Linked DNA regions of Homo sapiens: region 1 is linked to region 2. The links come from fine-mapping of genetic effects on plasma protein levels. A gene starts in region 2. The other region holds a variant in brackets. All regions are shown on one strand. Distances are from middle to middle. Region 1 overlaps ANPEP (alanyl aminopeptidase, membrane). Region 2 holds the start of ANPEP (alanyl aminopeptidase, membrane).

The links. PIP is the chance, under the fine-mapping model, that this variant and not a neighbour inherited with it causes the effect. Protein levels are from antibody-based Olink assays in UK Biobank. Linkage for the fine-mapping came from a reference panel and not from the study's own genotypes, which makes the PIPs less certain.
Region 1: its variant is fine-mapped to the plasma level of the ANPEP protein (UK Biobank, PIP above 0.99). The variant lies in the coding sequence of ANPEP. If it changes the protein, the assay may bind it differently, which can mimic a change of level.

What each region holds. Positions count from the first base shown.
Region 1 is chr15:89,794,101-89,807,489 of GRCh38, forward strand. It overlaps ANPEP (alanyl aminopeptidase, membrane), which reads right to left. Exons shown (of 21, transcript NM_001150.3): 2 at 11,870-12,706; 3 at 11,221-11,363; 4 at 10,978-11,117; 5 at 10,391-10,517; 6 at 10,153-10,307; 7 at 9,789-9,902; 8 at 9,547-9,690; 9 at 9,342-9,407; 10 at 9,139-9,204; 11 at 7,335-7,507; 12 at 7,011-7,087; 13 at 5,326-5,459; 14 at 5,160-5,215; 15 at 3,475-3,622. The coding sequence starts at 12,483. Among named protein-coding and RNA genes, the nearest start is that of ANPEP, 14 kb to the right of the region's middle. RefSeq lists an enhancer at 9,838-11,037, promoters at 12,436-13,389, 12,484-13,389, 12,484-12,636, 12,484-12,598, 12,487-12,878 and cis regulatory regions at 12,584-12,587, 12,597-12,878, 12,599-12,636, 12,611-12,614. The variant A/T (reference allele first, on the strand shown) is at 7,022.
Region 2 is chr15:89,811,502-89,827,839 of GRCh38, forward strand. It overlaps ANPEP (alanyl aminopeptidase, membrane), which reads right to left and starts at 3,351. Exons shown (of 21, transcript NM_001150.3): 1 at 3,271-3,351. It overlaps LOC124903551 (a long non-coding RNA gene), which reads right to left and starts at 13,953. Exons shown (of 2, transcript XR_007064753.1): 1 at 13,459-13,953; 2 at 11,683-12,198. RefSeq lists enhancers at 2,920-3,419, 10,275-10,775, 10,776-11,276, 13,194-13,867, 13,917-13,966 and 1 more, promoters at 3,287-4,441, 3,287-3,775 and cis regulatory regions at 3,390-3,395, 3,647-3,775, 3,683-3,686, 3,685-3,714, 3,732-3,734.

The DNA.
Region 1 (13,389 bases), 19 kb before region 2:
CCAGGCTTGGCAGAGTGGGAGAATTTGCAATTGAGAATCTGCAGAAGGGGAGACAGAAGCAAGGGAACTTGCTGTGACAAGACTCAGAATTAAAGGGACAAGGCCAGGTATGGGGGCACATGCCTGTAATCCCAGCACTTTGGGAGGCTGAGGCGGGCGGATCACCTGAGGTCAGGAGTTTGAGACCAGCCTGGCCAACGTGGTGAAACCCCGAAGCTACTAAAAATACAAAAATTAGCCAGGCATGGTGGCAGGCGCCTGTAATCCCAGCTACTCAGGAGGCTGAGGCAGGAGAATCGCTTGAATCTGGGAGGTGGAGGTTGAAGTGAGCCAAGATCGGGCCACTGCGCTCCAGCCTGGGTGACAGAGTGGGATTCTGTCTCAAAAATAAATAAATAAATAAAAATAAATAAAAAAATTAAAGGGACAAGTCAGCAAGGGACAGAGGGGAGGTAAGGACTGCAAACAGGAAGATGAAGTCAAAGTCTACAGAAGGAGTCATTCAACCCCCAAGTCCCCACTTCCCTCCTTGTAGAGGGCAGCACCCCTCACCACCCCATGAGAGAGATTGAACCAGGGGGCTCAGAAAGTGGGGTCACCAGACCACAGTGGGAGGGTTGCTGGATTGCAAAGAGGGTCAGAGGTGAAAGTTTCCATACTGAAAGGTGGCACCCCAGTTCCCTTCCCTCCTGTGTCCTAGAATGGGAGTACTACCAGCCTCATTGCACAATACAGAGGCTTACTCTCTGGAAAAACTGCCTTGTCTCGAGAGAACAAACCCATGGACTAATTTTTGAGGGTCCCCAGTGAAGAGTTACTTGGCCACCCAGTCACCTCGCAATGAGATCCCCCGGACAACACACTCCACCTTCCCATGGAGCTTCCACTTGCATTTTGTTTGTGTCTGTCTCAAACCCAAAGGGGTGGCTCAGCCTCCAACTTGAAAAGAGGCCAAAACAAACACAAAACTCAAGAGGAAACGAGTCAATGGAAAAAAAAAAAAAAAGGAAAACTTCATAAGAGCCTGTAATAAATATCCTCTGAGAGTGAAGAGAAGATATTGCATAGGATGCTGGAATCAGAAAGAACACTTGGAAATTTAAAAATACGACAGAAGAAATGAAAACAATTTCTAGGTGAGGTGGTGTGCAAAGCTGAGGGAACCTCCCAGGGGGCAGAATAAAAAGTCAACAAGCTGGAAAACAGAAGAGAAAAAGAAAACTAGAGGATGAAAGCAAGAGAAATAAGCTGGATTACAGGGGTTCCAGAAAGAGATAACTGGAAAAAGTGAAGGGAATAAAGTTTAAAGAAGCAATACAAAATCTTCCAATACTAGATGATGTGAATGCCAGTCCTGATTGGAAAAGGTAGATGGAGACGAGGCCCAAACCAAGGCCCACCAGGACCGAGAGAAGCTCCCAAAGTTTCCAGAAGGGAGGAAAACTGGTCACATTCAAATAACTGGAAATAAGAATGGCTCTGGGCATCGCATCAGCAACATGGCAAGCCTGACATCAGTGGAGCAAGACCTTAAACATTCAGAGAAATAATTTCCCACCTTGAAACTTCTAAACTCAGCTGAACGCTCAATCCAGTGTGAGAGTGGAATAAAGACATTTCAGATGATCTACCCCAGAAAAGTCACCTCTCATGAACCCTTTCTCAAAAACTCCTGGAAGATGTATTCCCCTATGAGAGGGGAAAAAATCAAAGAATCCATGGGATGCAGGAAACACAGTAGAGGGAGGCACCTCCAAGCATGGGAGCTGTGTGGCAGCTCTGGAAGAGAGCAGGCAGAATAGGACTCCAGGAGGAGTCCAGTCTCAAAACTGGGCTGGGCACAGTGGCTCACGCCTATAATCATAACACTTTGGGAGGCCAAGGAGGGAGGATTGCTTGAAGCCAGGTGTTCCAGACCATCCTGGCCAATACAGAAAGATCCCATCTCTACAAAAGATGCATCTCTACAAAAGAGCATGGTGGTGCACATCTGAGGTCCCAGCTAATGGAGAGACTGAGGCAGGAGGATCCCTTGAGCCTAGGTATTTGAGGCTGCAGTGAAGCTTGATTGCACCACTGCACTCCAGCTTGGGCAAGAGAGTGAGACCTTGTCTCTAAACAAACAAACAAAAACTTGACCTATTGTGTGATACATTTGTAACTGTGTACAAAAAAGGAAACATAAACATAGTGCTCTACATGGCTCAGCAGAGAATACTATTTAGATAATCACAATAAAGCAAATGCTTAACACTGATTTGACTAAATATTATGATTTAACTACATTAGGAGGATGGGGAATGTGGGGAAAGCAGTAAGAGGGTTGAAACTTCATTTACCAAAATCTCTCATTTACCATAATGGATATTAACAGATAATTGAACTTTTTTTTTTTCTTTTTTTTTGAGATGGAGTCTTGCTCTGTTGCCCAGGCTGGAGTGCAGTAGCACCATCTTGGCTCACTGCAAGCTCCACCTCCCAGGTTCATGCCATTCTCCTGCCTCAGCCTCCCGAGTAGCTGGGACTACAGGTGCCCGCCACCACGCCTGGCTAATTTTTTGTATTTTTTTTTTTTTAGTAGAGACGAGGTTTCACCGTGTTAGCCAGGATGGTCTCGATCTGCTGACCTCGTGATCCGCCTGCCTCGGCCTCCCAAAGTGCTGGGATTACAGGCATGAGCCCCACTGCACCCGGCCTGATAATTGAACATTTTTTAATGAAAAAAGATCTCTTCAAGCATGATTTAATGACTACATATCACACCCTGAAATGGATATTCTACAGTTTAACCAATCTTCAACCTTTAGACGTTTAAGTATTTGTGTTTTGTTTGCTTTTTGTCTTTTATAAACTGCTGCAGTGAGCATCCTATGGATGTAGCTTATTCATCCAGAATAAGCTCGAGTTTCCTTTTGGTCTCCCAAGCGGGAGCCTCAGCCCTCAAATAGGCCCCTATGCTCAGCCTTAAGATACTCCAAAGCAGCCAATACCCACATCTCTCTCATAGCGCAGGTGGGCTGGCCGGGCAGGTAGAGGCCTGCCCATCTGACAGAGAAGTTAACTGGGTCTGAGAAAGGGTTGCCCAAGGCCACACAGCTGGCAAAAGACAGGTCTTCTGGCCCTCAGCATGGTGGCCTTTTCTGTGCCTTCTGAAAGCGTTAATTCCCCATATTTCAAATCAACAAACGTTGCTGAAGTCTCCGCGACCTTTATTGTTTTGCCCCACGCAGCCTCCTCACTCACCTCCTCAGTGCCTGCTCACTCACCTCCATGTCCCTCCGGCTCGCTCTTTCACCTGCGTGCTCTCAGGAGAGAACCTGACAAGGCAATCTTTCTTTTTTTTTGGTTTTTTGTTTTGCTTTTGAAGGTTCCCTGACCAGGAGTCCAGTAGGCAATAGTCTATTAACTTCCTAATAGTGCACTTTCAGGCACTGGGGCGAACTGGTTCTTGAACCCTACCATGCACCTCCGTACCTTCATGGGGCCATAGACCTCGGAGCGGTCAAACATGAGCTTGAAGTAGCTCAGGCTGCTCAGGGCGGCCTCCCAGGGCATGTACTGTCTCTCTTCAATCAGGAAGAGGGTGTTGTTCAGCGCCAGAGTGACAGGGACCTTATGGGCACTGGGAATAAACAGAGGGGCCCAAGTAAAGCACCTCCACCCAGCCCAGCCACAGCCTGGGAACCCCAACCCAGGCCCTCAAAGATGCTCCACACCCCTAGGCCCCCTGTATCCACTCCTGGAGCCGGAGGTCCCAGATTCCCAACTGAGCCAGCTCAGGCATTTGCCATGGAAAAAGAGCTACATGGCTGCTGGGTGGTGCCACAAACAAGGCCCCACCCTCACCCATTGGCAGTTCCACTCCTTTGCTTATTATCCCCATTTTACAGATGAGGAAACTGAGGCTCAGAGAAGTGAAGTGACTTGCCCAAGGTCACACACCTCACGAGAGACAGAGCTGAGATTTAAAAGGGCAAGAAGCCCGTGTTCTTAACTCTGACCACCTCTTCTGACTTTCTGGGCACTCTAGGCCTTTCTTCCTCCTGCCTTCTGTACACATTTAGCTCACAAATGTCCTTGTCTGTGGGTGACATCACTCATGTCCAAGAGCTTAGAGTACCTCACCCCAAACAGAGTAGGTGCTCAATAAGTACCTGTTTATCCATACTGCATCCCTCCTGCCCTGTCCAGCCCAGATTTTTGGCACTTAGAACAGTGGCCCAGCATAGTCAGCCTTCAGGAAAAGCTTGGTGCAGCTGGGCACGGTGGCTCACACCTATAATCCCAGCTCTTTGGGATGGCAAGGCAGGTGGATCACCTGAGGTCAGGAGTTTGAGACCAGCCTGGTCAACATGGTGAAACCCCATCTGTACTAAAAATGCAAAAATCAGCTGGGCATGGTGGCACATGCCTGTAATCCTAGCTACTCAGGAGGCCGAGAAGGGAGAATCGCTTGAATCTAGGAGGCAGAGGTCGTAGTGAGCCAAGATCACGCCACTGCACTCCAGCCCGGGTGACAGAGCAAGACTCCATCTCAAAAAAAAAAAGCGGGGGGGCATGGCCAGGTGCCATGGCTCATGCCTGTAATCCCAGCACTTTGGGAAGCCGAGGTGGGTGGATCACAAGGTCAGGAGTGCGAGACCAGCCTGACCAACATGGTGAAACCCCATCTCTACTAAAAATACAAAAATTAGCTGGGCATGGTGGTGCACACCTGTAATCCCAGCAACTCGGGAGGCTGAGGCAGAGAATCGCTTGAACCTGGGAGGTGGAGGCTGCAGTGAGCTGAGATCGCGCCACTGTACTCCAACCTGGGCAACAGAGCGAGACTCCGTCTCAAAACAAACAAACAAACAAACAAACAAACAAAAACAAAAACAAAAAGCTTGGTGCTGTGGAGTAGAGGATGGCTTTGGAGTTGGACAAGCCTCTGTCTGGCTGTCATGAACTACTGTGTGACTTCGGGCAAGGTGTCACATTCTTCATCTGTGAAATGGGTGTGTGGGGACCCAGGGAGGGACGTCCAGGGAGCACAGGAGCTCAGGGCACAGCACGTGGCATATGGGAAGGGCAGCAGGAGGAGCAGGGGCCCTCATTGTGGACTCAGACTTGCTGAAGTCACGAGCTTCTGCAGCTGAGCCAGGCAGCGGAGCACTCACCTGGCCAGGTTGAAGGCGTCATTAATGATCTGTGCCCGATTGATGACAGGGATGGCCTAGAATGCGAAGCACAGCATGTGACCATGGGTTGGCTGTGGGTGGCAGGCCTTGCAGTCTGGTGCCTGTCCTGGGGCAGGGGGCAGGGCGAGGGGTGGCAGACACTCACCGAGTGGTCTCTCTGCAGCTGAGTCTGAATCTTCCTCCAGTTCTCTTCGTCGTAGTTCACCCGGTAATAGCCCGTCACATTGAGGTTCAGCAGGACCCACTCATTGCCTGATGTGCTGAAGAGATCGTTCTGGGCTGTGGAGAGGGACGAGACCTGGGCAGGGCTGCTCAGAGGCCATGGGCTGACCCCTGGACCTCTTGCAAGAGCAGCTGCCCCCGCAGCCTGGCACCACCTCACCCTCAAGCTGCTGGGGAGACGCTAAGGGTGGGGAAGGAAGGGATGAGGAACTGGGCTGCCAGTGGCTTCACAGACCATCAACCCATGAAGATGACATGCCACCCCAAACCTCAGAACCTGCCCTGCCTCCCTAGGCTCTGCACGGCCAGGCCAGCTGCCAGGCCGCTCACACTCAGCAATCCAGGCTGTTCCTCCTCCTTGCCCTCCTCCACACTCCATCACACCTGTCACCCAAGTGGGAACCACAGGCAGCTCCTCCTCTCCCTTCCCCTCCCATTCACCCAGACCCCCAGTGCTGCTGTCTCTTTCTGGGGCTTAGTGCCCCTTCCTCCCTGTGGGTCCCCCTCCTCCCTCACTCCTCTCATACTTTGTTTCAGCAGCCAGAGGTCAGGGCCAATAGGTTGCTCATTTCCCACCTGCCCCATCCACTGTCTCCTGCAGCCCCTGGGGCCCTTGGGGACCAGCTTTATCTCTTGGGCACACCTCTGCCCTAGCTACACTCAGTCCCCACACTCTCTCCTACCTCTATCCCTGGCACTTGCTATTCCCTTTGCCTGGAATTCTTTTCTCTGCCACATTAGCCTGTCTGATTCCTACTCTTCCTCTAAGACTCAGCTCACCTCCTCCGGGAAGCCCTCCCTGACCTCTCCATGAACTTGAATCTCCCTTATTCCCTGCTCCATGTCCCCATACCTCACTAGCCCCAACCATACACTCTGAAAGCACTCAGCACAGCACTAGAATGCCTCCAACTTCTTGCCTTCCTTCATCTGTAGCCTTGGCCAAGGCAAAGGATGACTTGTCATGCCCTTCGCTTCTTCAGTGCCTTGCTGAGTAGGGCTGCTCATAACATGTGCCAGGCACTACTTTAAGCATTTTATGTGGATTCTCTCCTTTTTTTTTTTTTTTTTTTTTTGAGACAGAGTTTCGCTCTTGTTGCCCAGGCTGGAGTGCAATGGTGCGATCTTGGCTCACTGCAACCTCTGCCTCCCAGGTTCAAGCAATTCTCCTGCCCCAGCCTCCAGAGTAGCTGGGATTACAGGCATGCACCACCACACCTGGCTAATTTTGTATTTTTAGTAGAAATGGGGTTTCTCCATGTTTGTCAGGCTGGTCTCGAACTCCTGACCCCAGGTCGCCTCGGCCTCCCAAAGTGCTGGGATTACAGGCATGAGCCACCATGCCTGGCCTAGGATTCTCTCCTTTAATCCTCACATAACTAATGGAGTATTGCTCTTAGCCTCATTTTATAGAAGAGGAACTAGAGACCAGAGCGGGATGGTAACTTGCCCAGAGTCACACAGCGAAGCAGCAGCAAAGTGGAGATTGGAACCAAAGAAGTCAAGTCCATTTGTTGAATGGAATGGCCCATCACAGCCCTCAGAACATGGGCCAGGAGCTAGGAGTATGGGGTGGGGGCTGCTGCCCATAAGGCAGGGCTGGATTACCTCTTACATCT[A/T]TCAGCCAGTAGTCCTGCTGCTGTCTGCCATCTCTGATGGATGTGATGGGCACAATCCACACGTAGCTGCAATTAAAGATCCAGAGGTGGTGAGAGATGGCGGTGTGGTCACTGCCAGTGAGGAGCAGCTGCCCAGGCTCCCAGCTTCTGCCCAGCTCTGGCACCGAGTGCCCCTGAACTCCTGGCTCTGGAGGGAGGGTCTGTCTACAGTGGCTGGGGCTGGGACCACAGGAGGCCAGTCCTACTATGGTCCCTTAGTAACTGCCCTCTACCCCACCCACCTGACCATGCCTCAGTGACCCCATCTGCTCACTTGAATTCTGAGGGGCGGGTAACATTGGAATCGGGGTCAAGGAGGAAGTGCTCCTGGGAAAGGGTCCCCGTGCTGGTATCCACCGTGATGACCGGGAAGCCCATCTGCAGGGTCCAGCGGTTCATGATGTCCCGCACGGTGGTGGGGAGTTGGATGGACCGGTTGTTCACAGCCTGTGGGTGGAGCGAGAGGGCGTGGCCATCAGTGGGACCCTCCAGTCCCTGCCATCCAGGGCATCTCCTGCAGATTCTCGCCTCGACCCCGGGGGGCCACTTGTATGGGAGGCCTGGGAAGGGCACTGGGCTGGGAGCCGGGAGCCAGGGTACCGTCCAGCTCTGCCTCTCCTCGGCTGCTCAGTGCTGGACGAGCTGGAGAACTTCCCAGCAAATCTATGAGGCCCTCCATTCTGTGGTCCACCCTGAGGTGTGTATGTCAGGGAGGGGGTGCCCAGGATGCCCATGGCTCTTCCTGAACAACACTGGGAGGAGGACAAGAAAGAGGAGACAGAGATGAGAGAAAGCCAGTGTTCAGGTGTCACAGGCAGGGGTGGGGGACGGGGCCCTGGGGGTCGCATGAGGGAAGTGCACTCGGACTGGGGTGTGGGGCGGGACTCAGGGGCACTGTTGTTGTCTTCTTGTCTTCTTGGATCTTTGCTCATGCACCTGCCTTGCCTTTGTCATCACAACAGAAAGCCAACCCCATTTGTTAATAACTGAAGAAAGGAATCACCTAAGAACGGGGCCACACAGAGGGCAGAAGAGCATGTGGGGAGGAACCAGCTGGGGGCTGCCGGCCGAGGGTCTCAGGAAAGAGGAGTGAGAGGGAGGAGAGCTTGGCTTAGGAGGGAACGCAAAGGGGAAGTTGGGGCAGGGCAAGGAAGGTAGTGGGGGAGACCCAGGCAATGACAGTGTCATTTTGTCAGCAGCATCTTGGGGTCTAGGGGGTTGGAAATTGCCCAGCAGGGACCCGGACCTCAGCTGTGACTCTGTGACAAGATCCTGGGTCTCGCTTCCCTGGTGAGACAGGCCTGGACTGGAAGTGCAGCAGCAACAGTGGGGTAGAAGCTGGACGGGAATTTGAGGCTCGGAACTCTGGAGGGGCTGTCGGTGAGGAGAGGACATGTCTGTCCTCTGGCTTAAGACGCTAGCATTGGGCAGAGCTGCAGGGAAGGGGTAGGGGGCAGCTGTCAGGGAAATGATGTCAGCGGAAATGATGGGGGCAGGATGGAGAGGAGGTGGACTCCAACCCTGGGGGAGGGAGAGGAGCGGCGGCCTCTGGGGGAAGGCAGGAGGGTGTGGCAGTCTGGGGATCTGCCCTACAAACAGGGGCTGTGCGGGGTCTGATGGAGAGGAACTCGAGCCGGGGCAGGGGCAGAGGGCAGAGTTCCTGCTGAGGGTGGTGGAGCTGTGTGCAGAGACATGCCCGTGGCGCCAGCGGGGGGCACAGGGCAGCCAGGAGTGGGGAGAAGGTTGAATGTCAGGCTCCAGAGTTCCAGGCAGAGGCGGGAACCATGAGGGCAGTTTCCTCACCACCAGGAAGGGGCTCTACAGCTCCCATCAAGAAGCCCGCTGTAGCCTGAGGTCAGCTGCTGGCCAGGACCTCAACCACAGCCTCACTCAGACACCTCTTGCAAGGAGCCATCCCGGCTTCCACTATAGGGAGGAGCAACAGAGGCTCCATCCACCCTGCAGGGCTGGTCAGCCGCGGAGCTGGACCCATTCTCTTACGCATGTGCTGCCCCCAGGTACCTTCAGCATCTCAAGACCCCAACAGGATGGCTGTGGAGGGGCTGGCTGCTACTGACCTCCTGCAGGTGGTCCCACAGGTTCAGGTAGATGGTGTTCTGGTAGGCAAAGGTGTGGAGGTAGGACTGTGGAAAGACGGGGCACAGTGAGAGCACAGCTGGAGCCCCCCAGGCTCCCCCTCTGTGGTGGGCAGAGGCCCGGGTCAAGGGCGAGGGGCAGAAGGAGACCCACCCTCATGGCTGGCCCAGGGTGCAGTACTCACCGCCAGGCCCTGCTTGAATACGTCCTCGGACAGGAAGCTGGAGAGCATCCTGAGGACTGAGGCGCCCTGGGGTGGGGGTGAGGGGGCGCTCAGAAGGCTGTGCAGAGCCACCAGGACCCTGTGCCCCCAGACCCTGCCTTCAGTGAGGCCCCTCCAGGCCAAGTCCCCACCTCCTTCCCCGTGCCCCACGAGGAGCGGGCTGCACCTTGCTGTAGGAGATGGCGTCAAACAGCTCACTGATCTGGGCCGGCGTGTTGATCTCCGAGGCGGGTGTGGACAGCGGGTGGGAGGAGGCCAGTGCATCCACTGCCATCACGCGGTACACATCATTCAGCACCATGAGGTCTTTCTGCAAATTCCCCAGGGCCATCAGGAGACTGGCCTGGTAGCGGTGGCCCAGGTCTCCCTCCATGCCCCCCGCACCAGACCCCTGGGCAGCTGGCTTACCAAGTTCCAGGTGGGCTCCGCATAGTCAGCACCCAGGTACTCCACGTAGGAGGCGAAGCCCTCGTTCAGCCACAGGTCATTCCACCACTCTATGGTCACCAGGTTCCCGAACCACTGTGGGGGGAGGGGTCAGCTGGGCAAGCCACGCCCAGGCTGGGCACTGAGAATCCCCAGAACTACCCTCCCCAGGGCTGGCCATCTGCCAGGCACAGTGGGGATTTCAACACCATCGTGACCCCTTCCTGCTGCCCTGCCAGGCGGCACCCTCCTCCCTTCTCAGCAGCCCGGGGCAGAGCCTGGACTTGCGCCGTCTCCTCTCGGAGCCCCTGTTTCCTTCTCCGCACTCCCCGAGATGGGGGTCTACCTGGTGGGCCAGCTCATGAGCAATCACAGTGACCACCCGCTCCTTGTTGCTGCTGGAGGAGGACAGGGGGTCGAACAGCAGGGAGTTCTCCCGGTAGGTCACCAGTCCCCAGTTCTCCATGGCGCCGGCGTTGAAGTCTGGCAGGCCAATCTGGTCTGGGGAGGCGATGCCATTGGCAGGATGAACTCCGGGAGTGGAGCTCCATCCACTGCCTCCCTCCTCAAGGACCCCCACTCACCTGATTTTGGGAGTGGGTAGGGTGTGTCATAATGACCAGCAAAGAAGTTAAGGATGGGGCCCGTCACGTTCAGGGCATAATCGCCGTGGCCCGCCGCAATGGCACTGGGCCGGGCCCAGATCCGGATCTGCAAGGTGTGAGGAAGAAGCAGACCAGGGGCTCCTGTTTGATCCTGGGGCAGGTGGGCTGGGTCCCAGGGCCCAGTGGGCTGGGGGGATCCCTGATGGGCCAGGGCTGGAGGCCAATCAAGCTAAACCTAGAGGCCTGGTCAGCAGAGGGGAACGCTACTGGGGTCTGGAGGCTGTGGGTCCTAGAGAAGGGCCTTTGGAGAATAACAATCATCATAGCCACCGTCTGTCTGGTAACCGGTGGGTCAGGAACTCCCTTCATGAAGAGAAACCATTGTTTTCATTTTTCAGGTGCAGAAATGGAGAACCAGAGAACAAGACACTTGCCTGAAATCACTCAGAGGTGGGATTCCAACCCTGGCCTAACAATTCAGAAACTGGCACAGGGATGAAGAGAACGGGAAGACCCCTCAAGCCGGGGCCAGCCCACGTGAAGGAGAGATGGGCCCAGCCTCATACCAAGACACCATTGGATGCCTGCTTCTCCACGTAGTCGAACTCACTGACAATGAAGGCCAGCAAGTACGTGGACATCTTGGGCGTGGTGTGGAACTCAGTGACATTCCAGTTGGGGTCTTCTGGAAGTGGGGTGCTGGGACCTGGGCAGGGAGCATGTGTGTGTGAGGACGTACCCTCCTGCCCCACACCCCAGCCCAGGGTGCCTGCCCCCTGGCCCTGTGGCCGCAGGCAGGGCCCACTCACCTTTGGGAAGCATGTTGGACAGGGCTGTCAGGTCCTTGGGGTGGATAAGCGTGATGTTGAACTCGGCCTTCATGGCCGGCTCATCGAAGCATGGGAAGGACTTCCGGGCATCTGCAGCCTGCATCTGTGTAGTGGCCACCACCCTGCCCCAACAGGAAGGTTAGAGGGTGTGCCAGAGCTGGGGGTGTGGGAGGGGCTCTGAGGATGCTACCAGGCATGCAGGGAAAGGGGTACATGGAAGGCTGCCCCAGCCTAACCCCTGCTCCTGCTCCCACCCCCGCCTCGCCGGGAGCCTCCGGAGCCCTGCCAGGCCAGCTGACTCGTGGGGGTTGGGGCTCCTTCTGGATTCGGGGTGCCAGCAGGCTCTCAGGGACCTCGGGTGAGTTTCTCTCCTCTGAGCCTCGGTTTTCCTGTCTGTCCAAGGGACGCTCTGTCCCTCATCCCCAGCTCCCTGGTGAGGGGTGGGGAAGCCCTCCCAGTTCGGTGCATTTGCAGCTGCTTTGCCAGCAGCTGGAGGTGAAGCAATGGGCCAGTCTCGGGCTCCACAGGGTTCAAAGGCCTGCAAGCTAAGTCCTTCCTTGGCCCTCAGAATCCAGCCTTGCCTCAGCACCTCGGATCCACCCCACCGGGCAGCCCAGCCGGAACTCACTTTCTGACATTGCCCTCCATGTACTCGCTGCGGTAGAAGCCCGCCAGGTCATCTGCCAACTCCCCCTCGAACTCGCTGTCCATCTCATACTGGCTGTCCTTCACCAGGGAGCCCTTGAGGTGCACCACCAGGTACTCGGTGGGCTCCACCAGCTCAGTCTTGTCAATGTCGGGGGGCTGGGAGCCTCCCACACCACGCAGGACCACCCTGTGCCCCTGGCTGAGGGTGTAGTTGAGCTTCTTGCTGTGGATGATGATGACGTCAGTGGCCTCCTTGCAGGTGAAACGGACGGTGCTGGAGCCCTTAAAAACGTACAGGCCCCTGTCATTGGGGGTGAGGTACGGTCTCAGCGTCACCCGGTAGGAATCGGGTTTCAGCGTGTTGGGGAGGCGGTAACGATTCCACGCTTTACTTTGGTCCAAGGTGGTGGCCGAGGCGGGGTTGGTGGTGGCTGAGGCGGACGGGGTGGTGGAGGCCACGGGGGAGCTGTTGGCGTTCTTGTTCTTCTCCTGGGAGTACACCACTGACAGTGCGATGATTGTGCACACGGCTGCCACGCCCAGGAGGATCCCCAGGATGCCCAGGGACTTGGAAATATAGAAGCCCTTGGCCATGGTGATGGTGGGGAGGCGGCTCAGGGAGCCTCAGGCCAGGCAGAGAACGGAGCAGCCCCAGGCCGGGCTTATATCCCCAAAGGGGAGGAGCCCCACAACAGGCAGACTGGGCAAAAATTAACCAGGGCTCCAACAGGCGAAGGTCACTGGACTGGGCAGGGGCACGCTCCGCCTGGGGAGAGGAGATCCAGGAACGGTGTGTGGAGCTGGGCTCGGGGGGTGCCTGCTGGAAGCAAACAGTGTCTGGTTACAGGCTGCAGGCGGCCTGGGATCAGGCCCGAGGGCTGAAGGGCAGGCTTCCGGCTGTAGGCCCAGTGGGCAAAGCAAGCGGCCAGGTGGCATTGCATTGATCTGCTTGAGAGCTGAGAGGGTGGGAACAGCATCAGAACTGAGGTTAGAGTCAGGGAAGGACTTCCCAGGGGCAAGAGGTGGGAGGTGCACAGAGAAGGGGTTCCCGGCTCCTATTAAGAACACACTGGGGTCACCCCTTTGGTTGCATCTCTGGAAGGATGCCAGGGGCTCCTCAGTGACAAGGTCCCAGCCTCCCTTGCATTCTTCAAGAGCAGGGAGTTCCTCCAGGTTCCCCTCCCTGCCGCTTCTTGCCAAATACTTTTTCCTCCATTATCAGCTCACGGAATAAAATGAAATGAGTTGTTTTGCTTTTTTTGCTGAAGGCTTCACCTCTTTCCAGCTGTGACCTTGAGCAGGTAACTTTACCCTTCTGAACCTCTCTCCTCATAAATAAATAACAGTATTTGCCTCTCAGGTTTGTTGAACAGATTTAGTGAGAAAACATATTAAACACCAAATAGTAGAATGATTAAAAATCATTCCCGGCTGGGCGTGGTGGCTCACGCCTGTAATCCTAGCACTTTGGAAGGCCGAGGTGGGTGGATCACGAGGTTA
Region 2 (16,338 bases):
CGGGCGTGGTGGTGGGCGCCTGTAATCCCAACTACTCGGGAGGCTGAGGCAGGAGAATGGCATGAACCCGGGAGGCGGAGGTTGCAGTGGGCCGAAATCGTGCCACTGCACTCCAGCCTGGGCGACAGAGTGAGACTCCATCTCAAGTAAAAAAAAAAAAAAAAAGAAAAAAAGAAAAAATTGTTCCTCTAGGTAGCTCCTAAAAGGATCCTGTCCAGTTGCACCCGCTTTGGGAACTGCTGCTCCACCCTGTATGATGTTGGGGTTGCTGGCCCTGCGGGTTGTCTTTGGTGCAGGCTCTTTCTGCCAGTGAGCAAAATGCATGTGTTCCTTTCGCTGTGAATTTCTTGACGGGGTAGAAGCCGAGCTCTCAACCCACTTCAACTAAAGCAGCCTTTCTATGGGTTTATGTATTTCTTCCCTGCCTATGTTTTAGTCCAGAAAACGTAAGTTCTTCTAAACTAAAACCAAAGCCAAAACCAAAAAACATGAAGGTTGACAACGATCATGCCAGGGCATAACTAAGTCACAGTCACAGTGTGGAAGACACCCACACTTGTGGGTGGGGAGAGGCTCCTTGGTCTCAGATGTGAAGTGCAAGAGGCTTTCTACTCTAATATGAAGACTCCAGGAGCCTGGGAGGGGCTGTGGCCGGGAGAGCTGAGCACCCGTGGCCGGGTGAGCTGCTGTGTTATCCATGCTCCATCCCCGACCACTGGGTCCTTGGGTAGGCCCCACCCACTCCCACTCAGTGTCCCTGACTGTGAACTATGAGACTGGGAGCTCAGGGACAACCTGGGGCTCATTGTCTGCTCTGAGGGAGCAGTGAGCGAGAAGGGTAGGGACGAGGCTGGGCCTGGGCCAGGGCACACTCTGTCCCCGCAGGCCCCTGGCTTTCTCCCAGGCTTCTGAGGCCTCCGCCCATAGCTGCATCACCCCAGGGTGCTTCCTCTGGGAGCCTTGGACATTGCCCCTCCTGCAAGAACCTCAGAAGGCCCCAATGGGAAGTTGCCTCTCATCAGCCTCTTCAGCCCAATGCAGGGCACACAGGAGGAAGGAGCAGAGGCATTTGTGGGTGGGGGAAGTACACATAGGGTTTGTGTGGGGCCACAGATCCTGCCTGGCAACTCCTGTCTGCCAAATGGGGGGTGATTATCCTGGTGAGACACATGGTAGGTGAAACTGAGCACCTACTATGTGCCCTACCAGGATAATCACCCCCATTTGGCAAATGAGGACACTGAGGCACAGAAAGGTTAAGTGATTTGCCCAAGGCCACACAGCTAGTTAGCAGCAGGTTCCACAGCTTAACTACATATGCCTCCTAAAAATGTCCTCCCATACAGCCCCTCACATCTACTGTGGCCGTGCCAAGGGGAGTTGAAGACCACAGGAGAAGACACGCACCCATTTGGCCAGACCAGGGCTGGGAGCTGGGGGTAGTTCTCAGAAGTAGAACTTGTTAGCCAGGGAGTGCTGGGGGCTGCTTCCAGACACAGGCCTGTGGAGGACCCACATCTTGCCTCCAAGGTGTGACTGGGACCACTGTAGGGCCAGGAGTGACAGGCACCCGGGGTGAAGCCCGGGCTAGGGATAGATGGCTGCCAGCCTATGTGAATAAGGACACCCCAGGGCCTCGGTGTGCGGCTGACACACTGTCCATGCCATGCCTCCAGGGCTGTCCAGGAGCCCCAGCATAGGGTTCCAGATCTCCCACCAGAGCCAGCCCAGGAACTGGACCCAGTTCCAACACCTTGGCTCCTTCCGACATGGGGACCCCCATCTATGTCCTCAGAATGCCTAGCATACAATTCTTACAGCGATGGGGCTGGAGGCCTTAGCTTAAAGGCTGTAGGGGTGTAAGGAGCGCCAGCGTGTAACGAAGGTCTCATTCCCCAGAAGGCTCTGGGGGAAGCACAGGGCAGGCGGCTGGGCTGCCTCAAGACACTGGGCCGGTTTCCCCACCTGTGAAGCGGGAGCAGCGCTGTGGGTGGCCTCCTTGCACTCATAGTGTGGCCTTCGAGGCTAGGGCTCCACAGGAAGGTGGCTGAGAGTGGATGAGGGCCTCATGGGCCCAGCACACCCTCCCACAGGGAGAGGGGAGTCCACCCTCTTCCCTGCCCAGCTCCCCCATACCCACTGGGGCTAGCCAGCCTTCCTGTGGGACAGAGGCTGTCCCCACTTCCTCCTGGTCACCCCTACCCCACACGCCCACCTCCCCTCCACAAAACACATACCCTGAGGGGCCCTCTGGTCCAAGCCTCCCCTTTCACAGGTGAATTAACTGAGGCCCAGTAAGGCCAGGGCGTTTAGAGACTCAGGGATGAAGCCACATCAGACCTCAGGTCTGGCTGAGACCAGGGCTCTGACCACCCCCGAACACGGCCTGGTGGGTTGCAGTCCAGGGGCTGAGGTGGGGGAGGAGTGGGGATCCAGTCACAAAACCCCAGGACATAGCCCACCTGGGCCGTCCCTGCCCACCGCACTGCTGGGGGGGGGGGGTGCGTTCTGGAGTCATTTGGGGAAAGGATCCCATTGGCCCTGTTTAGGGGACCTTTTCCCAGACCAAGAGTGGATTGCAATGGGGCCCTGGATCTGTCTCAGTTGCTCACCAGGGAGGGCGTGGAATAGGCTCCACAACCCCCAAACCTCGGTCCCCATCCATGCCCCGGCATCTTGGCCGGGTTGTAGGAGCGAGGGAGAACGCGACTGTAACGCGGGCGTTGAGCACCTAGAGTTCCCCTTCCTCTTCACTGAGAGCTGCGGCGGAGGCTTTAGACCGAGGAGCGAGATCTAAGGTTAAAGAAAGGGCCTCTGAGCCCAGTGTTGGCCAGAGACCCCACAGGCGGGCCGGGTTCGCCCTTTGCCTTCGGCCGCGCCCCACCCACCAGGGACAGAGTGGCCGCGGCCGAGCCGGGTCCACCCGCCGCAGCTTAGCTCCGCTCCGCCGCCCTCCCCGTCCGTCCTCCCCAGGCTCCCGTCGCCCTCGCCCACCCTGGGGCCCCCTCCCCAGATGGGAGCCCCTCCGACCCCTGCGAGGCCCGCTGGGGACCCACTTGACCGCGAGATCGTAGTGGGAGCTCGGCCAAAAGAATTCTTCGCTTTCCCTGGCCCTCAGTTTACCCATCTGGGAAGAGGGGCGTCGCGGCCGCAGAAGTCCAGCTCCGCACGCGCCAAGCGCTGGGTCTGCAGCTCCCTCGGTTCCCGCGCACCCAACTGCCCCACGACCCCTACCCGCGCCCGCAGCCCCCGCCCTCCCGCCCCACTTGCCTGGGCCGCCGGGCGCTGGAACCTGGACCCTGGACCCTGGCGGGTTCCGAGCTGCGCCGCCGCCGTCCCTGCCCCTCCAGCACTGGACTCCTCCTTTCCCGTCTTTTTAAAGGGAAGTAACCGGACCCGACCACTACTCCACCCGATTCACCCCTAGCGGGCCGCCCGCCCGCAGCTCCGCCCGGGCTCCTCCCCCGTCCGCCCGCGGCTTCCCGGGAGCCCCCCAGGGCTCCTCCGCTCCTCCGACGGCCCGGCCTTCCCCCCGGGGCCTGGGATGCACCAGGGCTCCTGCTGCCCCCGACGGGGTCCCTGTCGCCGCAGCCCGCGGGACCCGCCGGCCACATCTGGACGGCATCTGCCGCGGGGGAGGGGCTCAGAGCCTCGCCCTGAGTGTCCCGCAGGGAGCCTTGTGCATCCGGGGCAGGAAGCCAGCGCATCCCGTGCAGACGGGTGGTGCAGATAACGGACCCGCCACAGCACGCAATTCAACTTTCTTGGTACCTGGGACTCGTAGTTCAGAAGGCGCAGTAGCACGACCTTGCGAAAAAGCACCGGAGTCGGGAACACGCGCTTCTCATTTTTTTCTTTTTCCTTTATTTGTTTTTGAGACAGAGTCTCGCTCTGTCGCTCACGCTGGAGTGCAGTGGCACTTTCTCCGCTCACTGCAACTTCCTCCTCCTGGGTTCAAGCGATTCTCCTGCCTCAGCCTCCCGAGTAGCTGGGACTACAGGTGCACGCCACCACGCCTGGTTAATTTTTGGAGTTTTAGTAGAGACAGGGTTTCACCATGTAAGGCTCGTCTCGAACTCCTGACCTCAAGTGATCCGCCCGCCTTGGCCTCCCAAAGTGCTGAGATTACAGGAGTGAGCCACCACACCTGGCCTGCGCCTCTCATCTTGATCCTGCTTGCAGAGGTTGTGCAGCCACCGGAGCCCCGCCAGGGTGGGGCTCCCTGTCTCTGAGCAGCTTTAATGGGCGGTACCAGATAATATTTGTATTGGTTCCCTGTGGCTGCCGTAACACAAACATAAAACAACACTAATTTACTATCTTACAAGTTTTGTAAAATCAGAAGTCCAAAATGGGTCTCGCTGGACTAAAAGCAAGGGGGTTGAGGGATACAGCTTTCTTGAGGCTGGAAGGGAACCTGTTTCTTTGGCTTTTCTGGCTTCTAGAAGCTGCCCACATTCCTTGGCTGGTGGCCCCATCCATCTTCAAAGCCAGCAGTGGCCCACCAGTCTCTCACAATCTGTCACTCTGACACCAACTGTTCTGCCTCTTGCTTCCACTGGTGAGCATCTTTGTGATTACATCGGGCCTACCCAGATAATCCAGGGTAATCTTTCTATTTTAAATCAATGGATTGGCAACTTGAATTCCACCTGCAACTGTAATTTCCCTTCGTGGGGTAGCATAACATATTCACAGATTCTGGGCATTAGAACCAGGGCATCTTTTGAGGAGGAGGATATGATTATGTCTACCACAATATTCAAGCTGACTTCCAGACTTTCAGATTTATAATCAAATTTAAGCTCTTCCTTATCCATGATTGGAATCCTTGGGACAGTTAAAGCCTTGCACTGCATGGTCCAAATTGATGGCTTTGTGACTGGCTGTGTTTTATTATTTTACTTGCACTTGCTCTTCTTTTGGAAACTTCATGGAGGACCAGGGTACCTCTAGGTAGCAGCCTTGCTTCTCCTTCCTAATTTGCTCTGTACTCTTAAAAACCAGGTCACAAACATATCGGAATATAGAATTGTGTGTAAAGTAAGAGTAAGTAGGCTGTGAGTGAGACCTCAGAGGCTATTTTGTTTTTTTTCTCTCTCCAGTCTCATGCATGTCTGACTCTCTCCACTATCATATCTGGCATAATCTCCTCCATGTCTGACAAGCCAAGGAAAACACTACATCAGGCCAGGAGAGAATCTTCCCCCCGGAGCTCTGCCTCTCCCACCCAGGCTCCGCGGAGATTTTAAGAGGAGTAAAGATCCTGCTGTGGCAGAAGTGCAACCCAGCTTTCTGGAGGGCAGTTTGGGGTTAGGAATGAAGATCACTTTCAGAAATTTAGCCTGAAGAGGCTGGGCGTGGTGGCTCATGCCTGTAAGGCAGGTGGATCACTTGAGGTCGGGAATTCAAGGCCAGCCTGGGCAACCTGGTGAAACTGTGTCTGTACTAAAACACAAAAATCAGCCAGGTGTGGTGGCGCATGCCTGTGGTCCCACCTACTTGGGAGGCTGAGGCACGAGAATCGCTTGAACCTGGGAGGCAGAGGCTTCAGTGAGCTGAGATCACATGACTGCACTCCAGCCTCGACTACAGAGCAAGACTGTCTCAAAAAAATAAATAAATTTAGCCTAAGGAAATAGAATATTTATATGCAAGGCTTTTCACTGCAGTATTACTTATAATACTGGAAAATCAGAAATAGCCTAAGTGGGCTGGGCGTGGTGGCTCATGCTTGTAATCCCAGCACTTTGGGAGGCCAAGGCAGGCAGATTACGAGGTCAGGAGTTCGAGACCAGCCTGGCCAATGCAGTGAAACCCTGTCTCTACTAAAAATACAAAAATTGGGTGGGCATGGTGGTGGGTGCCTGTAATCCCAGCTACTGGGGAGGTTGAGGCAGGAGAATCGCTTGAACCCGGGAGGTGGAGGTTGCAGTGAGCCGAGATTGCGCCACTACACTCCAGCCTGGGTAACAGAGAGAGACTCTGTCCACCCCCTGTGAAAAAAAAGATGAAGAGACAGTGCTTGCTCCTGCAGAAAGAAAATTCATGGGCTCATAAACATGTAAAAAGATGTTCAATAACTCACTTATTAAGAAAATGAAAATTATAACTACAAAAGATACTATTCTTCACTTACCAGATCAGCAAAGATAAAAAGCAGTTTGGTAGGTCAGGCACAGTGGCTCATGTCTGTAATTCCAGCACTTTGGGAGGCTGAGGCAGGAGAATCACTTAAAACCAGGTGTTCGAGACCAGCCTGGGCCACGTGGCAAAACCCTGTCTCTACCAAAAAAAAAAAATTAGCCAGGCGTGGTGGCACGTGCCTGTAGTCCCAGCTACTTGGAAGAATGAGGTGGGAGGATTGCTTGAGCCTGAAAAGTCAAGGCTGCAGTGAGCCATGATCGTGTCACTGCACTCCAGCCAGAGCGATAGAGTGAGTCCCTGTCTCAAAAAAAAAAAAAAAAGTTTGGTAACACACTATTCGCAAGGGTGGGAGGAAAACAGGCAACCCCCTGCATTGCTGGTTGGTGTGTAGACTGACTCGACCTCAAAAGAGAATATTTGGGCAGTATTTATCAAACATATAAACACATGTCCTGTTTGACTTGGCACTTCCAGAAATTTATCCTACAGATAATGCTCACACGTAAGTGAAAGGAATACACAAGGCTTTCCACTGCATCGCTGCAACATTGAGCCAAAACCACAATGACTTTTGCACCAATCTAATAGCTGGAGACAACCTAAATGTCCACCAATAGAGATGGGATAAATGAATGATTATTGTATGCCCTGCAATGGAATGCATATGGCTATCAAAAATAACTAGGATTCTCCTTACAGAACGCTCCCCAGGACAGGTTGTTTAGTAATAAAACCTAGACGCAGAGCCGTGTTCAAGTCGTTTATCAATTGTACTTAAATGGAAAAAGCACAGAGACACACAATTTGCTTTTATATGTGCACGCGCTGATAACACGAGTTGTTTCCCAGGAAGGAAACTGGAGCTGGAGAACAGGGTGGGAAACGCATTTTTCAGCATATCCTTTTGTTCTCTTGAATCTTGAACCATGTGAATACCGTGTCTAATCAAAATATAAATAAAATTAAAAGTGAAGACGAAAGACCAGAAGATTAACAGGCTTTATAATATAATTTTTTTTTTGAGATGGAATTTTGCTCTTGTTGCCCAGGCTGGAGTGCAATGGCGCAATCTTGGCTCACTGCAACCTCCGCCTCCTGGGTTCAAGCGATTCTCCTCCCTCAGCCTTCCGAGTAGCTGGAATTACAGGCGTGTGCTACCACACCCACCTAATTTTGTATTTTTAGTAGAGACAGGGTTTCTCCATGTTGGTCAGGCTGGTCTCAAACTCCCAACCTCAGGTGATCCACTTGCCTTGGCCTCCCAAAATGTTGGGATTACAGGCGTGAGCCACTGCGCCTGGCTATAATATAAAAATTTGAATGCCAGGTGAGGTGGCTCACATCTGTAATCCCAGCACTTTGGGAGGCCGAGGCAGGGGCATCGATTGAGGCCAAGGCAACATAGCAAGACCCCATCTCTATTTTAAAAACTTTTTTTAACTTGGCTGGGCGCAGTGGCTCATGCCTACAATCCCAGCACTTTGGGAGGCTGAGTCAGGTGGATCACCTGAGGTCAGGAGTCCCGGCCAACACGGTGAAAATCTGTCTCTACTAAAAATACAAAAATTAGCCGGGCATGGTGGCAGGCACCGGTTATCCCAGCCACTCAGGAGGCTGAGGCAGGAGAATCACTTGATCCTAGGAGACAGAGATTACAGTGAGCTGAGATCGCACCATTGCACTCTAGCCTGGGCGACAAGAGCAGAACTCTTTCTCAAAAAAAAAATAAATAAAAATTATAAACTTATATTTGTGGATGAAATGATTTGATGTCTCAGGTTTGCTTTGACCTAATCCAGAAGGGGTGGAGAAGTCAGGAATGCTCAATACAGCATGATTTAAAATAGGGGAAAATCAGAAACAATTAGATGTTCAGTAATGGAGGATTGGTTAAATAAATTATGGGCTTCTATATGAAAAAAGTACTATGCTACCATTCTAAAAACAATAAATCATAGCTGGACGCGGTGGCTCACGTCTGTAATCCCAGCACTTTGGGAGGCCGAGGCAGGTGGATCACCTCAGGTCGGGAGTTCGAGACCAGCCTGACCAACATGGAGAAACCCCATCTCTACTAAAAATACAAAAATACCCGGGCATGGTGGCGCATGCCTGTAATCCCAGCTACTCAGGTGGCTGAGGCAGGAGAATCACTAGAACCCAGGAGGCAGAGGCTGCGGTGAGCCGAGATCGCGCCACTGCACTACAGCCTGGGCAACAAGAGCGAAACTCTGTCTCAAAATAATAATAATAATAATAATAATAATAAATCATATTTTAGAAGTATTGAAAGAGTACTTTCTGTTTTGTTTTGCTAATAATCGTGGAGTGGGAAGACCTTTTTAGGTATATGAAATCCATACTCCACAAATGAAAAGACCGCTACAGTTGACTACATAAAGGTAAAAATCTCTGCATTGCACAACCACCACAAGCAAAGTCAAAAAGAACCCTCCATAACAGGGGAAAATTAGCTATATGTTGCTAACTGTTGACTCTCAGAGATGGGTATATTGAGGGTTCATTATTACTGTTATTTTTTAGTGTGTTTTCAAATTTCCATAACAAAAGGAAAACTTAAATATATACAAACTTCTGTATGGCAAAAGCCAAATATTACACTGGACAATAATATTTGCAACACATATAAACAACAACAGATTAATATCAATAATGTCCTAAAAAGGTCCTACAAGGTGTTTGTAAAAGACATAAAAACAGGCCAGGCGCAGTGGCTCACGCCTGTAATCCCAGCACTTTGGGAGGCTGAGGCGGGAGGATCACGAGGTCAGGTGATCAACACCATCCTGGCTAACATGGTGAAACCCCGTCTCTACTAAAAAAAAAATAATAATAATACAAAAAATTAGCCGGGCGTGGTGGTGGTAGCCTGTTACTCCCAGCTACTTCGGAGGCTGAGACAGGAGAATGGCGTGAACCCAGGAGGCGGCGCTTACAGTGAGCCGAGATCATGCCACTGCATTCCAGCCTGGGCAACAGAGTGAGACTCCGTCTCAAAATAAATAAATAAACAAACAAACAAACATTAGGGCAGAATAGGACTTGGGAAAATAAAATAAAATAAAAACAACACAACTGAAAACCGGGCAAAGGATTAGATCTGAAACTTCACAGAGGAGGAAATTTTAAAAGCCAACTAACAGGTGAAAAGATGTTTAACCTTAGTCATACTCAGGAAACACAATTTCAAAACAATGAGATGTCAGTTTTCACTTATGATGTTGGCCAAGGTCTAGACCAACGGATAACATCTAGAGTCGGCCAGGGTGTGGGGAACTGGGATCCCCCCACAGTCCTGGGGCACATGGGAATCGCTATGAATAAAATGGCAAGCCCTATTCACAATTTAACCACAGCTACCCTTTCATCCAGTGATCCTGTTTTGGGGAATTTATCCTAAACCCAGGGAGTAACGAAACTACTGCTTAAACCATTCATGCAGGAGGAGGCTTATTAGAGCATTCCTTGTTCGAGAAGAAAAATAAGCCAAAATGTCTGTAGAGCACCCTTTAAACAAGTGAATAAAGGTCCACAGGAAACAGTGTACACAGTCACAGAGCGTGTGTGCTAACTCTGTATGTATCACCTTGGAATGATGTCTGTTCGTACATTTTTAAGTTCAAAAGCAAGTTCCAAGCAATGCATTTCATCTCACCCTCTATTACAACAGCCCCAGGGATTGTCCCCATTTTATAGAGGAAGCTGATGGCTCAGGCGTGAGTAACCACCCCAGGCCAGTGCCCAGCTTGTGTCAGACCTTCCGAGGAAGCCACATCTGTCTGACCCAGCAAAGCTGCAGGGTCCTCTCTCTGGGTGCGTCATTCGGGTGTATTGTCATGAGTGCTGGGATGAAATGGAAATGAACTTGCCAAATTATTAACCCACTCTGCCTCAGTGAGGTTGACTTGAGCCAGGGGTGGGCTGGGGGAGGGAGACAGGGGAGAGACTATCCATTTTTTCCTTATATGCTTGTTTATTCTTTGAATTGTTAGAACAAACGTGAGATTTTCATAGCAACCACCCACCACTACAAAACCATTAAAATACTGCTTAAAGGGTGAGGTGCAGTGGCTCATACCTGCAATTCCAGCACTTTAGGAGGCAGAGGAGGTTGGATTGCTTGAGGCCGGGAGTTCAAGACCAGCCTGGCCAACATGGCAAAACCCTGTCTCTACTAAAAATACAAAAATCAGCCGGGCGTGGTGACATGCACCTGTAATTCCTGCTTTTTGGGAGGCTGAGGCGCAAGAGTTGCTTGAACACAAGAGGCAGAAGTTGTAGTGAGCTGAGATCGTGCCATTGCACTCCAGCCCAGGCGACAGAGTAATACTCTGTCTCAAAAAAAAAAAAAAAAAAAAAAGAGAGAAAAGAAAAGGTGGAAGTGGGAGGGGCAGGCAGGACTCAGAATGATGCCTCCCTGCTCATCCTGCGTGGCATCCCTTGCTGCCACCTCCATCTCAGTAACTCAGCCCCACGTGGTGCTCGGAAGAGCCCTTGGGAGAGGGTGCGTGATCTCAGGGCGTGGCAGCTTAGTGGGGGACTTTCCCCAAAGACTCCTTCTCTAGGCTGGAGTCCCTTGGTGAGGACGGGAGCAGCTGTTTCTAAACCTCCCTCTCCCCACAAGCTTAAGCAGCACAGGCTGCCTGCAGGCACTTTGGTCAGCTGTGTGTATGCGTGGCTCCCGTGCACCGAGGATGACTGGTCTACCTGGGCAACAACAGCAGGGATAATAAGCTCCGTGGGCGCAGGGTTCCTGCCTGCGCTGTTTTCCACTGTATGCAGCACTTAGCACAGGACTTGGCACATATAGGGCGAACTAAAGAACCAAAGCAGGGCATGATGGTGTGCATCTGTCATTCCAGTTTCTCAGGAGGCTGAGGTGGGAGGATCGCTGGAGCCCAGGCCTTCGAGGTCAGCCTGGATAGAATGGTGAGATGACAGAAACCCCCACACTGTGACGAGGGAGGGCAGGAGAAGGTGAGTGTCCATGGGGCACTGTTGAGGAATGAGGTGCATTGTCAGATGGACAGGTGGAGGGAGGGTGTCCGTAGCAGAGGGACCAACATTTCCAAAAGCAGGGGGTCCGGTGCATGGCGAGGGGGAGGCTGGAGTGCTCAGGGACAGTGGAGCCCTGAATGCCGAGCTAGGGAATTGAGCTCTATTCCTGGGAATCCTGAATCCCTGATGAAGTTGGAGAAAAGGACACTGATGGAATTAGGTTTGCCTTTTAGAGAGAGCCCCTGGGGACAGTTTGGGGACCAGATTGGAAGGGTGCCAGGTAGGAGGCAGGAAGAGCAGTTGGTGGCGGGTGGGGGGGTGGGGTGCCCTCCAGAGACAGAAGGAGAGCAGTTCAGGGATATTCCAGAGGTGGCTTCAGGAGGCCTGGTGACCAGCAGTGGGGGAGGGAGTCAGGGGAATGGGGCACCAGGGCTGCTGCTGGGGCTGGGGAGGGCAGTGCTAGAGTCAGTACTTCCTGGCACTGAGATTTTTTTTTTCAATTTCTTATTGCTGTTGTTTTCAAGAACTCAGTTTGGATTTTATTATAAAATTGATTAAAAACACATTTTTTGGAAAAAAAAAAAAGACAAAGAGTAGCTTTTACAATGAACTTCTTTGGGAACTTTCTCAGGAAGTGGGAAAGGGCCTGTTGTTGTCCAGGCTGTGGAAGGGATGGAAAGGACCTAGAGCCCACAGAGGTCCCTGAGGTGGCAGCAGGGCAGGGCAGAGTGGGGTGGGGGGAGGAATGGACCAGGCAGGTGGGGACGCCAAGTCCCGCATGGCACCCCTCGGCGGGCTCCCTCCCCAGTGCCCCCTGGATGCCACACCTAAGCACGGATGTGGTTCCCCCAGGAGTCCCCCAGGGCAGGGCAGGGCAGGGACCCTGCAGAGGAATGCTGGGTAGGAGGCAGCTTTGTGGTCAGACAGACTTGGCTTCCTCAGAAGGTCTGACACAAGCTGGGCACTGGCCTGGGGTGGTTACTCACGCCTGAGCCATCAGCTTCCTCTGTAAAATGGGGACAATCCCTGGGGCTGTTGTAAGAATTAAATGAGAAAAATCCTGTACAGCATTTAGCAATGCCCAGCCCTTAAGAAGCCCTTGGAGAGGAGCCCCCCAGGGATTGTCTTAGTGGGTCTTTGACCAGGTGGTGTGGCTCACACCTCCAAGCTGTCCCCTCTACAGAGGGGGTTGGGTGGGGGTGGGAGAGGAGACCTCATGCCTTCCGATCTGTCCTGGGCATGAGGTCTCCTCTTCTCCATCACGGATGTCCCACCCACTCCCACGGGTTCACCATCTCCCTGGACACCATCCTCCATTTTCACCCATGGCCTAAGACGTCCTGCCCAGCCCCCTCCACAGAACCAGCTCCTTGTAGTCATCTGAACCGGGCATCCTGGGGGCTCTCAAATATACCTCCAAACCTGACCCTGCCATCCTGCCCCTACACCTTGGCCAAGGGTGCCACGCCCATCAGGCTCTTTGCCTCCCTGTCCCCTATCCAATAGGCCTCAATTCTGCTCAATTCTGCAGCCACTGCCCTGTGCTCTGCCTTAGGGGAGGACGCGGCAGCCGCTCACTGGCCACTCCAGCCTCCTAGGTGGTCCCCCTGCCCTCACCACAACCTCTGCTCCACTGGCAGCCGGACTGACCTTTTGGAGATGTCACTGTCTCCCTCTCTCTCCCCTAAATTGTTGAAAATCCTTCAGGACTCCACCAATGCCAAGGTCAAACTCCATGCAAAGCATCACGCTGCCTCCTCTCCCACCATCAATGCATCAGCCTTTCCCTGGACCTGCAGCAGCCCCCTTGCCTCTCTCCCCTGGGAGGGGGACTGGCGGCAGGCTCCCCCGCATGGAGTCTGCTCCCTCCTGAGTGTGCCCGGCACCGGCATAAGGCAGACTGCCAGTAAAAGAGGGCTGAGGACGGGCTGGTGGTGCTCGGGGGTTCTGTCACCTGAGCGGTCCCTCAGGTGGCTGCATTCCTGGAATTTCTCTTCTTCTGAGCCCTCAGGAGGCCGTAGCGGTTCCACCCACCCAACTTGGCCCATATTGCTCCAGGGCACCTGGAGAAAGGACCCCGACTGTCTTGGGAAGAGGCCCACCTGCATCTGGCCTCCCTAGCCCTCAGATCTGCATGAAACGTGGCTCCCACTACTGGCTGCCTACAGGGGAAGCGGGGCCACAGGCTGAGTGGTCACTGAAATTCACTCCAGGCTTCTGGGGGCTGGGGCCTGCACACAGCTGGAGGTTTCAGGGAAGGGTTAGGCCAGATCCCCAGTCCGACACTTGTACCTTTGAAGGGGGCAGAGCGTGGCAGTTAAGGATCAGGCTTCATATCTTGGCTGTGACACTTATTAGCTGAGTGGCCCTGGGTAAGTCACTTCTCTGTGCCTCAGTTTCCCCACCAGCAGATGGTAACGATGCTTTGCCTCTCAGGGTGGTAGTGAGCAGTGAGCAAATGCATGAGAAACGTGCCGGGCAGCAGGGCTCGGTGCATCCTGGCCATCTTATACCATCATTCCAGGCAGTTCCGGGCCTCGTAGCCTCTGACTCCATGCGTCCTCCTTCAGCCACAGTCCCAGGCCTCCTGCTCCCCATGGGGGTGGCCCAAGACCCTAGGGCTCAATGATGTAATGACAAAAGTGTTTAGCAACCGGCAGAGAGTGGGCGCAGGGTGCAGGGCGTTGGCCCTGACTTTAGCATTTACCAGTTTCCATGGTGTAAATAAATAACCCTGCCCTGTCCAATTTCAAGCTGCTGTGGATGTGGAGTTGGGAACAGATGCCCAGTGGCACACCAGGGTATGATGTCTCCACCGCACAGATACAAGAGGCGTGGATAACCCCAAAAGCAGAAATGATAGTCAAACATGTTAACATAATCAGGAAGTGGTAAGTGTTGCATATTACCTTTGCTCTTTTGACATACTTTGTGAGCATATGCAATTTAATTTTTAATGATGGCTATGCTTGACAACTGACCCATGACATTACTGAAATGTGGACAGCTGGCTCTCCCAAGCAAGTCCAAGTTGGCCCCAGCCCCCTGCGGTGCTGTTCTGTGCCGTCTCGCCCAGGGCACCAGGACCTGCTCTGAAAACTCTGTGGGGCCTGGCTTCAGCCCACCTTGTTTTCATCCCACGTGTCACTCTTTGGAACACCATGTTTAAGCAGGGGCCATCTCTGGGTTTCTTTGTGTAGCCCGTGTTCAATCCTAAGGACCCTCACTCCTGGCCCCTTGTCTGCTAGTCACCTTCCACCCAAGGTTAAAAAGCACAGGGTTTCTAGCCAGGTGTGGTGGCGTGCGCCTATAGTCCCAGCTACTCAGGAAGCTGAGGCAGGAGAATTGCTTGAACCCAGGAGGCAGAGGTTGCAGTGAGCCAAGATCATGCCACTGCACCCCAGCCTGGGTGACAGAGCGAGACTCTGTCTCAAAAAAAAAAAAAAAGCACACAGCGTTTGGATTCAGGCACACCTGGCTCCCATTCTGGACCTGACCTTTCACAGCTGTGTGACCATCAGCAAGTAAGTTAATCCCAAAGAGCCTCATTTGTCTCATCTGTATGATAGGGATAATTCACTGACAGGTCACCTCAAAAAAGTTTCCTTGAGTCTCTTGGTCGTCCCTCCCTCCCACCCGTCTCCCCAACTCCATTCCCAGGCAGCCACTCATCTGCTTTCTGTCACTATAGATTGGTTTGCATTTTGTAGAATTTTTTTTTTTTGAGACAGAGTCTTGCTCTGTTGCCCAGGCTGGAGTGCAGTGGCACGATCTCAGCTCACCGCAACCTCCACCTCCCAGGTTCAAGCGATTCTCCTGCCTCAGCCTCCCAAGTAGCTGGGATTACAGGCATGTGCCACCACGCCCGGCTAATTTTTTTTTTTTTTTTGTATTTTTAGTAGAGACGGGGTTTCACCATGTTGGTTAGGCTGGTCTTGAACTCCTGACCTCGTGATCTGCCCACCTTGGCCTCCCAAAGTGCTGGGATTACAGGTGTGAGCCACCATGCCAGGTGGACTTTTGGTTTTGTCTGCAGCCTGGCTAGTTTCAGTCTAGGCTTTCCGCCTTCCCTTTGAGCCTGTGAGAGCTTCCCCACAGCCCTTCAGCGAGTGCCTTTCTGGGTTGGTTCTCTTTGCACTGGGAATCCTGACTGGTGCAAGGGAGCCGCTGTGTTCCCATTTCCCAGCTGAGGAAACACAACAGAGAGAGGTTAGGTGTGTTGCCCAAGGTCACACAGTTGGAAGTGGCAGAGGCAGGATCAAACCAAGTTCACGTCTCCTTCAGGGCTTTAGGACTATGTATCATAGTAAAATGCCCTCTCACACACCATTCTGACCACCTGGAAGTGGGCAGATAAGGGACTGGCTCAGGGTCACACAGTGAGACAGGAAGCTGGGCCTGTGCCCCCACCACACAGTGCCTCCTGCCCTCAAGGCTGAGTAGAGCGTGGAGCTTCACGCATGTTGAGAGGGAAATGGAAGGAGTTGAATGCATTCATTGATTTGTTGAGCAATCTCGTACTTACTGACAGCTGAATATGGGTCAGGCACTGTCCCAGGCACCAGCAAGGCAGCAGCAAAACAACAGTGAAAAAGAGAGTCGACATGGCACACACTGTCATATCGGGTGACAAGCGCCACAGAGGACAAAGTGGGGTGAGGGATGGGGAGTGAGGGGAGAAGTGGCTGCTTCAGCCAGGTGGGACCGGGAAGTCCTCTGCAGGTGAAGGCTGAGAGAAGTGAGGAGCAAGGGGGACCTGAAGACAGAGGCAGAGGGGATGGCAAGACAAAGGCCCTGCGTGGGAATGAGCCCGGCAGGTTTGAGAAGCATAAAGGCCAGTGTGGCTGGAAGGAGGGAGCCAGGCAGGGGTGCAAGATGAGGATGTGGGGTGGGTGGGGGCAGCTAAGCAGGGCCTTGGGTTTCTTTGAGGCTGGTGGGAAGCTTTTGGGAGGCTTTAAAGGCTGCAGGGCAGTGGGGGTCTGATGAATGCATGAGGTGGTTCACTCTGCGGTGGAGCGATGACATGAGCCACAAGGAGACAGAGGGGGAGGCAGAGACACTGCTGAGGGGCCTGAGGGGTTGTGGTGGTGTCCGGGCAGGGACACTGGGGTGGAGGATGCAGTGGTGACATGTGGGCTCCAGGACCACTGACTATCGTGCAGGATCTGGTGC